Linked DNA regions of Homo sapiens. The protein of the gene in region 1 purifies or fractionates together with the protein of each later gene. This does not show direct contact. Each region holds a gene or a part of one and is shown on either strand. Other genes may lie near its edges.

Region 1 (3,500 bases):
TTTTGTCTCCTGCTCTTTAAATGGAGGAAATTGTTCATGTAGGAAAAGACCAGGAAGTGTGATTCTGCTTTCTGCTCTGTGTGGTTCAAGCTCTGTTTTGTTAATTACATGTTTATACCAAGGGGTGGAAAGGTTTTAATTCATTAACACAAGAGTGTGTTTTTCTTAAAGTCCTATATTAGAACTTCTGTGAATCCAGACTGCCTTGGCAATGAATATTTTGATTTTCATGGCTTTTGAAACATGAAAATACCTCTGGAAATAGTCTGGTGCCACTGGGGACTTCACTAAGAACTAAAATTAAATTTTAGTAGAAGGCAGAAAGAAAACTCATGCTTTCATAATGGTTTATATCTTGCTGTCATCAAATGCTTTTCTTTCTTCAGCATGTTTGCTGTGACTGCAAGAAGGATTTTTGCTCCGTTTGTTCAGTCTTACAAGAAAATCTCCGTAGATGTTCTACTTGTCACTTATTACAAGAGACAGCATTTCAGCGCCCTCAGTTAATGCGACTGAAGGTGAAGGACCTGCGGCAGTATCTCATTCTGAGAAATATACCCATAGATACTTGTCGTGAGAAAGAAGACTTGGTGGATCTAGTACTGTGCCATCATGGACTAGGCTCTGAGGACGACATGGACACAAGCAGTCTGAATTCTTCAAGGTCCCAGACTTCTAGCTTTTTTACACGTTCGTTTTTTTCAAACTATACAGCCCCCTCTGCTACTATGTCTTCGTTTCAGGGAGAGCTTATGGATGGAGACCAAACATCCAGATCTGGAGTGCCGGCACAGGTACGAGGGGGTAACTAATTACACCCAGGGCCCGGCACGCTTATTCTTGGCCGTATATGGTGGGGCCTTTAGTGCTTGATGACTTCTGATAAACTTCAAGTCATGTGCTGGAGTGAAGCTTCCACACCCAGCTGAACTCTGCACTTAAAGGCTGTCCTGATGTATAGTGTCTGCTGAGGTGCTAGGTGGCTCCAAAGTCTGCTGTCTGAAGGGTCCCAAAATAGCTCATCAGTCTCTTGGCCTTAGTTAATTTCTCTGTCTTACACAGTTAGACACTAACTGTTGAAGAAATGGCTGTGAAAAAGTAGCACATACACATTTGTAGTGTTATGTGTTAGTGCACGTGTTTCAGTGACCACAGAAAACAATCAGTAGTGTAAGTTAGCCTAATGCCCATTTGTCTTGCTACAGTGAAATTGTTCTAATTTAGTTAATGAAAGAGCCATCTGAATTAGTGAAAAAATGTAGTTATTTACTAATTGTAATTAATAATATTGTCCCAGTGAGGTCCTTGGACATCCTGATTGAATAACATGTAAAGGCTTGTAATTAATATTTACTTGTACGTGAGTGATTCTAAACTGCTGAAAGAAATGTTTTGAACAAATTTTTTCACGCTTAATTTTCTTCTCTGAAGAAGGGGGTTATTAAAAGTAGAGGAAAGCTGGATGCGGTGGTGTGAGCCTGCAGTCTGATACTTGGCAGGCTGAGGCAAGAGGATTGCTTTAGTTCAGGAGTACGAGGCTGCAGGTGTACCATGATTGCAACTGTGAATAGCCACTGTACCCCCAGCCTGGGCAACATAGCAAGACTTTTTTTTTTGTTTGGAGGCAGAGTCTCACTCTGTTGCCCAGGCTAGAGTGAAGTGGCGAGATCTTAGTTCACTGCAACCTCTGCCCCGCTGGGTTCAAGCAATTCTCCTGCCTCAGCCTTCCGAGTAGCTAGGATTACACCCCAGTTAATTTTTGTATTTTTAGTAAAGATGGGGTTTCACCATGTTGGTCAGGCTGGTCTCGAATACCTGACCTCAGGTTATCTACCTGCCTTGGCCTAAGTGCTAAGATTACAGGCATGAGCCAACCGCGCCTGGCCAAGAGTGTCTTTTAATTAGTAAATGAATAAATGCAGAGGGAAATTTGGTCTAATTGCCTTCTAGATATAGTCCTGTGTCCTCTAATAATGTTTTGGTCAGTGATAGACCACATACACGGCAGTGGTTCTGTAAGATTATAATACCATATTTTTATTGTACCTTTTTTGTGTTTAGATATGTTTAGATACACAAATACTTATTACTGTGTTATAGCTGCCTACAGTATTCAGTACACTAACGTGATGTACGGCTTCGTAGCCGGCCATGCCCTATAGCCTAGGTGTGTAGCAGGCTGTGCCATCTAGGTTTGTGGAAGTACACTGTGATGTTCGCACAATGACAAAATCGCCTAAGGACACATTACTCAGAACGTCTCCTAGTCGTCAAGCAACACATACTGTAGTCGTAAATTAGATAAGTCCAAGCCAGGAGTTTTATTATTCTCCCAAATGAGAATTGGCATATTTATGCTGCAAACATAAGGCACAGCTGACTTACATACCCCTTTTGGGTATACACCACCATTTGGGTGATGTGGATTGTTGGATGCTACAGTATGGTGCCTGGCAATCAGGGTGGAATATTTGAAATTGGGAACCGACCTAGCTTATTGGAGAGCTATTGTCAAATATAGTCAAAAGAAAATATGTGAAGGAAGGTACATAACCCAAACTGAAGAGATTTGTGTTTTCTAAAGTGTTCTGATTGAGAAATTTTAAAAACTAGAATTAGCCTCAGCCATCAGTGAAGTCTAGAAAGCCTTCGTTGGAATTAGATTGTCTAAGTACGCTGTGGTAGGACTGAGATCTTTCAAATCAGATGCCCCTGATGCTTGGGCTGACCCATCAGAGCTTTAGCTTTTTTCTGTCTGCATCTTACAGGCTCCAGTTAAACTAGCCATTTGCAGGTACTTTGATAATGACACAGTGCTGTCCCATATCCTTAATGGCTTTGGCATTCCATTATGGGACCTTCCTGAGAGAGTTAATACTCTGGTTAGATTTTATAACTTTACACACACACAGGAATTTGTGTTTTGAGCTAACTTTATGGAAGGTAGGTTCTTCATGCAATTTTGTAGGGCCCAACTTTTTGGAAGGGTCAGCAGCATTCTGAATCCAAAGATGTGCATTATGCTGGCTTTCTGGTCATCATGGGGAGCATCAATGACAAGGTTTTCTCTAGTGATAAATACAGATTGATTCCTGACCTAATCAGATACGTTGTATAAGTGTAGGTACAAAGTGAAATCACTTCAGCAAACACAGAAGATGATGATGACGACGATGATGAGGATGATGATGATGAAGAAGAAAACGCAGAGGATCGGGTGAGGCCACCTATAAAATTTGGTTTCCCTGACATGTCAGCCTGACAGGAAGGGACAGTGCCCTGTGGACATTCGCTAGATTAGTACAGGATGTTTCTTCTGGTTTGAATGTAGGACAGTATACTGAAACACTTCTAGGACTGCTGAGATGGCTGGGAGAATATTCAGGGCCAGTGATGAGTTTAGAGTGGGGAGGGTCTGGACTTATGGGACCAGGGCTAATGGATGCTCTGTGGTTTCAGAACCCCGGGCTCTCCAAGGAGAGAGTGAGAGCTTCACTGTC
Region 2 (3,500 bases), on another chromosome or scaffold:
TCCAGAGGGTCCCCTGCAAAAACACTCCTGGAGAATGTGACTGTGATCCAGGCCCTGATGCCATCAGGGAGAACGGTCCTGGTGAGAGAGACAGCAAGTGCTGTGGCCGCAACGCAGGCAGGTTTGCATGGCTGGATCTATGTGACTGAGGGAAGTCACAGTTCACCCAGAGGAGCTGGGGGCCCATCTGGCAGGAACAGAGGTGGCTCTGGCAACCCCATAATAGTAACACCAAAATCTATTGACCTCTTACCCCACACAGCTAAAGCTCAGAAACCACTGGTCATTGGCATTCTCCCAGCTGATATGAGGGGCGCGGAATTCTGCCCCATGTTTTTTGCCTCTCAACTATCCCACTGCTTCTCACGGAGGCCCCCAGCCTCCAAAGGGGGGCCTCTTTGATCTGTGACAGCCATGTTTTTCTCCAGATTTTGTGGTTCATTGCTTCTGGTTGTTTTCTTGGTAGAGACTCCGGAATCTGCCCCAGGTGTCTGGGAATGACGTGAAACAGCACAGCAAGGAGGCCTGAGGCGTGAATGTGATGGTGCTGGGTCTGCCTGGCAGCCTGTGGGGGCGGAGGGATGCCTAAGTGGGGGATGCCGTTAAGAATGGCCAGAAGAGACAGGGTGAGCAGAGAGGCTGAGAAGAGACAGCAGATCAGAGCAGGGGGTGTGGGGGAAAGGAAAGAGGGGGTCAGGCGGGGCGCTAAGGCAGCTCCGTTCACGTGTCAGCCTCAGCCCACAAATCTGATGTGAAGGCCTTGCCTAGGGTGTTCTGCACTGTATGCATGGCTTGGTTCTTGGAGAGCCTCGGTTCTTAGAGAGCCTCATTAATGCAAAACTCCCCGTAGGGCAGGACTCATTCCCCACAAGAATAAATATACAGTAGGAGGAGATGTTCCCTCCGCACAGAAAATCCACGACCACTGCAGCATATTGTCATTGCTTTCTGTCTTCTCAGCCCGATCTCTCAAATCCCAAAGAGGGGTCACCCCAAAATTGACGGCTCAGCCTCAGAGAGGTGGCTACTTGGTTGCCTATCACGCTGACGTTGCACACCAAAGTTATCGACTTTAATGCACATTTTTCAGCCCTGGTGCTGTTACCTCCTAATGAATGGGTGGATGACATGTTGGAGGGTTTTAAAATTATTATTTAAAAATGATTTTTAAATTATTTATTATTATATTTAAATTAATTATTAAATGATTTTTAAATTAAATATTTTTAAAGTATTATAGTGAGTTATAAAATAGCAATACAAGAGTCCTCAAAACCCAGGACAGGTGTTCTGATGCATGTAAACAGACCCCTCGCCAGGCACTAGTGAAGAACGGGGACCTTTCTATTTCTGCTCTCAGCTGACGTGGCGCCACCATGTGGTAACTGCGTTAAGCACCAGGTCACGCAGCCTGCGGAGGCAAAGCAAGGACCCGACTCCAAAGGGATATCTTAATCACTGCATGCTGGCTTTGAAATCTTGCTGTTTTCTGTGAGTTTTGTTTTAATGATGGAAATCTACATTATGCCAAATTTGGCTCATATTTTTTTTTTATTTTTTATTTTTTTAGAGACAGGTGACAGACTGGCTCTGTCACTCAGGCCGGAGTGCAATAGTGTAAACATGGCTCACTGTAGCCTCGACCTCCAGGGCTCAAGCGATCTTCCTGCCTAAACATCCCAAGTAGCTGGGACCATAGGCACACACCACCAGGCCTGGCTAATGTTTTAAATTTTATGATAGAGACTGGTCTCAAACTCCTCGTCTCAAGAGATCCTCCCACCTTGGCCTCCCAAACTGTTGGGATTACAGGCGTGAACCACCACAGATGCTTTTGTATGGTTCTCCTTTACATTCAAATTAGAATCCACATGAGACGCAACCAGACTGTGGGCTCTGTGCCAGGCTGGGGGCCTGGCTGCAGGGTAGGCCTGGCCCTCCCCTCAGAGCTGACCAGGGGATAAGCCCATCTCAATACAATGAGACAGTGCTATGGTAGGGGAGGGACAGAGGCTGCAGGAGCACAAAGGCCAGCTAACCCTGACTTTGGCCAAGAAAGGGGGTGTTTAGGGAAGTGACAATAAATTGTAACCAGAAGGATGGATGATTAAGAGTCAGCCAGGTGCCAGGCACGGTGGCTCATGCCTGTTATCCCAGCACTTTGGGAGGCGGAGGTGGGAGTATCACTTGAACCCAACAGTTCAAGACTAGCCTGGGCAATATAGTGAGACCCCCATCTCTAAAACAAAATAAGTAAAAATGAATTTTAAAAAAAGAGTTAGCCAGGGGAGCAGGTAGAAGAGCAAGCAAGAGCCTGGACATCCTGGGAAGGCTGGGCCGTGCTGGGGACTCGGAGCATGCCAGGCTGGGGAAGGTGAAGTGGCAGGGGCCAGGTCACCAAAGGCCTTGGAAGCCCTGCTACTGAGTCCTAAGAGTGACAGCAGATATTCACGTGACAAAGGCCCTCCCTGCTGTTGAGACTGAGACTGGATGGGGCATGGGAGGAGCACAAGACTGACTAACTGTCCAGAAAGTAGGTATGCCTGCTCAGCCTGCATTCCTAATTCCCCTGCCCTTTCTGTCTTTCATTTGATTCATAGGAGAAAGAGGGACCGGAGGCTCCGAAGGAAGAGCATTGCTGGACCACACACTGTGGATAAGACAGGAGGTGAGGCAGAGCAGGGTTTCTACAGCCCCGAGAGTGGCAGCCTTCCTCACTTCCTGTTACTGTTGTCCTGAGGGAACTCTGCTGGCGACAGCGGGGTGGGGGACTCTTATGTGACACTGGGTCCTCCGGGGTGGGAGCGGGGGGCAGGCTGGGTTTTCAGTTATTAAAATGAACCAATCACTGTACACACACCAATTAGTGCATTAAATATTATTAAAGTTGCCTGGGCACAGTGGCTCACGCCTGTAATCCCAGCACTTTGGGAGGCCGAAGTGAGCAGATTGCTTGAACCCAGGAGTTCAAGACCAGCCTGGGCAACATGGCAAAACCCTGTCTCTACAAAAAAAAAATAGAAAAATTAGCTGGGCATGGTAGTGTGCACCTGTAGCCCCAGCTACTCAGGAGGCTGAGGTGGGAGGATCACCTGAGCTTGGGAGTGGGTTCTGTTATTTTCCCCATTTGCTGAGCTGTCTAGAGATGAACTGGCCCAGGGCTGTGTGATAGATAGGTCAGTAGCCCATCCAGGGTTAATCAAGTGTTCTCAATCACTTGTGGTCAAGTTATGGGCATGGGTCATGACAGTGACTTAATACAGTTCATGTCAAATTATAAATTCCAGGAGACTGAAACTCTGTTTTTCCCCTATCCCCAGCACCTAACGCACAGCCTGGTATATACAGATGGTGCTCAATAAACACTTACTGGATGAATGATGTGACCAGAGACTGCTCTCCTAGGTAGCCTCCACCCAACTCCACCAACGTGGAATAGGGATGGGGCAGTTGGATGTGCACAGGAGAAATAGACCACAGGTGCCCATGTCACAGCTGGA
Region 3 (4,005 bases), on another chromosome or scaffold:
GTCCATGACTCTTCTGGGCAAAGCCAAATAAGAGAGAAAGGGGGCAGTAACCAGGTGGGTCCCTGAATTTCCCTCCTTTTCCAGAATACCTAATAATTATTCCACTCTCTAATTAAAGAAACACCCACAAAATAGGAATGCTGTGTGGTCACAGGAGAAGGGGGAAAACATCAAGCTGTTAAAATTAGCTACTCCAACAAGAAGACTGGGCTGATGAGACCTTAACAAACAGGATTGGGGCTAGGCTGTCCCATGACGCTAGATTTGACCCATTTCCTACCCCAGACCTAATTATACACTCATTGCCACATTAAATCACACACCCACCAGTGCCAGGCCAATCCAAGCACGCCCACATTTAGTATAAAAATGGTTGGCACCCCAATTCTAAGAAATTCCCACCTTTTCCTAGAAAAACCTCATGATTATCCCACCCCCTAATTAGAAGAGCCCATAAAATTAGAAACCCAAACTCCATTGTGCATGACCCGCTCTCCCTCGTACGTCCGCATTTCCCTCTTCTCTTGGGAAAAGTACACTCTTCTCAAAAATGTGTACTTTTTCTTCCCAATAAAAGCTTCTTGCCTTTGGCTTCATTTTGACTCATCCCTGCATTCTTTCTCACGATGGTGTCACGAAGCTGGACTCCGGAAGCGGGCGGGGACTCACGGCCCCTGGAGACCTTCCTGAGCCCTGGGCAACACCAGTCCACACAGAGGAGGCAGACGTCCCACAGACGGAACCCCACGAGCATGTCCCGGGAATGGCTCCACGCGGGAAGCGGGGGTCCAGATCCACGCCAGTCCCAGGGACAGTGCCTGGCGTCAGGGTGGAGGAGGACGCAGTAACCAGGCGTAAGATTTTACTGGTACATGGGAATGTCACTGGGTCACTCAGAGGAGGCAAGCGGGGAACCTCGTGGCAGGGCCCCCTTTATCAAACTCGTTTACCTGGGTGCCTGGGCGAGTGCTCACAGCCTGCTTGTAGGGACGTTGAGGCATCCGAATAATAGGAAGTTTTAAAAATTTACAATCCAGTGTGTACACTTGCTCCGCTAAGATCATCTGAGATATACAGAAACATGGTGTGCATAATAAAAAAGGAAAAAGAGCCAAGCCTGGCCTCTTACGGGACAAGACTACATTACCTAGAAGGCAGTGGGCCGGCGCAGGAAAAGGCGTGGCAGGCGACCGCGACACAGGGGCGGGACTTCCGGCCTCGCTGGCGTGGACGTTTGTGGTGGGGCGTGTTGGTCCGCGCTCTCAGAACTGTGCTGGGAAGGATGGTAGGGCGACTGGGGCTCACCTCCGCACCGTTGTAGGACCCGGGGTAGGGTTTTGAGCCCGTGGGAGCTGCCCCACGCGGCCTCGTCCTGCCAACGGTCGGATGGCGGAGACGAAGGACGCAGCGCAGGTGAGCAGACTGGCTCGGCTCCCCGCGGCCACCCGGCCTCAGTGTCCCGGGCCCGACGAGCGGAAGGACGGCGTTTCAGGGTCGTCCTCAGTGCAGTCCCTGCCGTTGCTTCTTAGAGGCCTAGAAGGGGGTCGCGCGGTCCCGGGTCCGGAATGCAGGCCCGCGGTGGCGTGGGGAGCGTCCCCGTTTCTGGGGTGCGCGGCGTTGTGGTATGAAATAGGGCTTTTAGGGTCCCGGAACCCCTCACAGGTGAGAGGAGCGACCGCAGTCCTCCTCGTGGCTCTTCCAACCATGTCCTTTCTCGGGCCTGCGACCTTGAACAAGTCCCGTTACTGTCCTCGTCCTTCATTTTTGCGCGCGCAAAGTAGAAATATTTACTCTTCCCCCCCCCGGGGTTGAGGAAGCTTGAACGGCTCCCTGGGTGATGTGTGTGTGTCCGTCTCAGTGCACAGCACGGTCCGGGGACGTCGCTCAGGATGTTGTTTCCGGAGCTGCTCCCTGGGCCTGTGCTAGGTTTGGAGACTCAACCCCAGCAGGAGTCTGACCCTCTGGCCTCCTTGGCCTCCTGTCTCTACAACACGAAGGGCAGCGGCTGAAAGAGGTGGGAGGAGCGTTTCTGCGGTTGCTGCTATGCCAGGGCAGAAAAGGTGGTAGGGCAGGCTGAGGAATTTGTCTTTCAGTTTAGGGCAAGGGACGCTGGGTTGCAACTAACAGTATATTTTCCTGTTTAAGACATTTAGTTACAGGTGAAAAACGAGTCCATTAAAATGTTCAGTGGCGATGGTATGCAGGATGTAGTGTCCCTTTGGAGATAACACATGAGGCCCAGGGTTACTCTCTAGCAGTCACTCTGATTACTTTCATGATAGCCCAGATTACTGTCAGCTCCTGTCGTAGTTGTTAATTTCTCATCCACCTCTCCCTCCTTTGCTTTATTTCTGACTCCCTCTGGTGTCCGCTGCTTAAAGAGGTCTCGTCTGTTGCACCGTTTAAAGCTGACCAGAGTCTCTTTGGTCTCCTTGCTCTGTTTTCTTGTCATCTGAATCTTTAAGGCCATCTGACATTGCCTTACTCATTTATTTAGTTGCCTGTTTAGGATCTTTTTCCAACCCTGGAATGTGAGTGCCTGTTGCTTCCCTCTCCCAAGACCCAGAACAGCCAGGCTTAAGTACATTTATTGTACTTAATAAATGGTTGATGATTGAATAGGCCTCTCTTATAGGGACTCTCATCACATTTCCAATAAATCCACCCCCTCCTACCAGCATGGTCTGCAAGGCTGTACTTGGTTTGCCCTTTTGACCGCATCTTCTTTCTCCTCTTCCATTGTCCCCTTTCTCACTGCATTCATCCAGGGAATCCTGAGCTTGCCAAGCTCTTTCCCATTTTCAGCCTTTGCCCTTGCACTTCCCTTTGTCTGAGACATTGTTCTCAGGTCTCTGCGGGGCTGCAGTTCCACACCCATCCTGGCAGTGCTGGCTGTAGCTAAAAGCACCCCTCACTCCCACCTGCCTGCTCTCTGGCAGCTTGGTGAGGTGTTTTAGCGGTGCTCAAATGCTGCTTTTGCTTTTTAAATGTGAGGCTGTGCCTGATTTCTAAAGCTCCCTGAGCCTTTGCTGACTGTGAAATGGAAGTGATAACGACATTTACCTCTGGGCCTGTCAGGGGATTAATAAAGTTCCCAAACACATCAGGCACTTACATGTGCTAGGCACTCCACTGATTGCCTAAGTGAACATTTTCTGTTTAGTTCTTAGAGCTGCCTGCTGAGATGGGAATAGTTATTGTGTTGATTCGGAAATCGAGCCTTAGAGAGATCATGTGACATCGTCATAGTCACATAGCTGGCAAGTGTCAGATTCAGGAGGCCTGATTTAAGTCAGGCCTTTATTTGCTTTACCACGGCTAAGGAAGCCTTAGCCTGGCAGGGACACAGTGAGGACCAGAGGACTTAGTGAAGGGTGCCTGCCCCTCTACACCTGTGGGTATTTCTTGCAAGGTGGAGATGAGAGACTGAGAAAAGAAATAAGACACAGAGACAAAGTATAGAGGAAGAAAAGTGGGCCCAGGGGACTGGCACTCAGCATATGGAGGACCCACACCAGCACCAGTCTCTGAGTTCTCTCAGTATTTATTGATCACTATCTCTACCATCTCCATGAGGGGGATGTGGCAGGACTATAGGGTAATGAGTGGGGAGAGGGTCAGCAGGAAAACATGTGAGCAAAGGACTCTGTGTCATAAATAAGTTTAAGGAAAGGTGCTGTGCCTCGATGTGCACGTAGGCCAGATTTATGTTTGACTTTACCCAAACATCTCAGTGCAGTAAAGAGCAGTATTGCCGCCAGCATGTCTTACCTCCAGCCATAAGGCGGCTTTCTCCTATCTCAGTAAATAGAATGTACGCTCGGGTTTTACACCAAGACATTCCATTCCCAGGGACAAGCAGGAGACAGATGCCTTCCTCTTATCTCAACTGCAAAGAGGCCTTCCTCTTTCATGAATCCTCGTCAGCACAGACCCTTTATGGGTGTCGGGCTGAGGGAAGGTAAGGTCTTTCCCTTCCCACGAGGCCACATCTCAGGCTGTCTC

The links.
Region 2: the proteins of RNF34 (region 1) and CASP9 purify together in Homo sapiens (affinity purification with western blotting, with the first as the bait; one study listed by BioGRID). This does not show direct contact.
Region 3: the proteins of RNF34 (region 1) and ZNF550 purify together in Homo sapiens (co-immunoprecipitation; one large-scale study listed by IntAct). This does not show direct contact.

What each region holds. Positions count from the first base shown.
Region 1 is NC_000012.12:121,417,118-121,420,617, forward strand, and holds part of RNF34 (E3 ubiquitin-protein ligase RNF34), read left to right. Parts: intron 1-386; coding exon 387-794; intron 795-3,124; coding exon 3,125-3,217; intron 3,218-3,459; coding exon 3,460-3,500. UniProt on the Homo sapiens protein: E3 ubiquitin-protein ligase that regulates several biological processes through the ubiquitin-mediated proteasomal degradation of various target proteins.
Region 2 is NC_000001.11:15,500,216-15,503,715, forward strand, and holds part of CASP9 (caspase-9 isoform alpha precursor), read right to left. Parts: intron 1-3,500. UniProt on the Homo sapiens protein: Involved in the activation cascade of caspases responsible for apoptosis execution. Binding of caspase-9 to Apaf-1 leads to activation of the protease which then cleaves and activates effector caspases caspase-3 (CASP3) or caspase-7 (CASP7).
Region 3 is NC_000019.10:57,557,064-57,561,068, reverse strand, and holds the start of ZNF550 (zinc finger protein 550), read left to right. Parts: upstream 1-1,205; 5' UTR 1,206-1,386; coding exon 1,387-1,413; intron 1,414-4,005. UniProt on the Homo sapiens protein: May be involved in transcriptional regulation.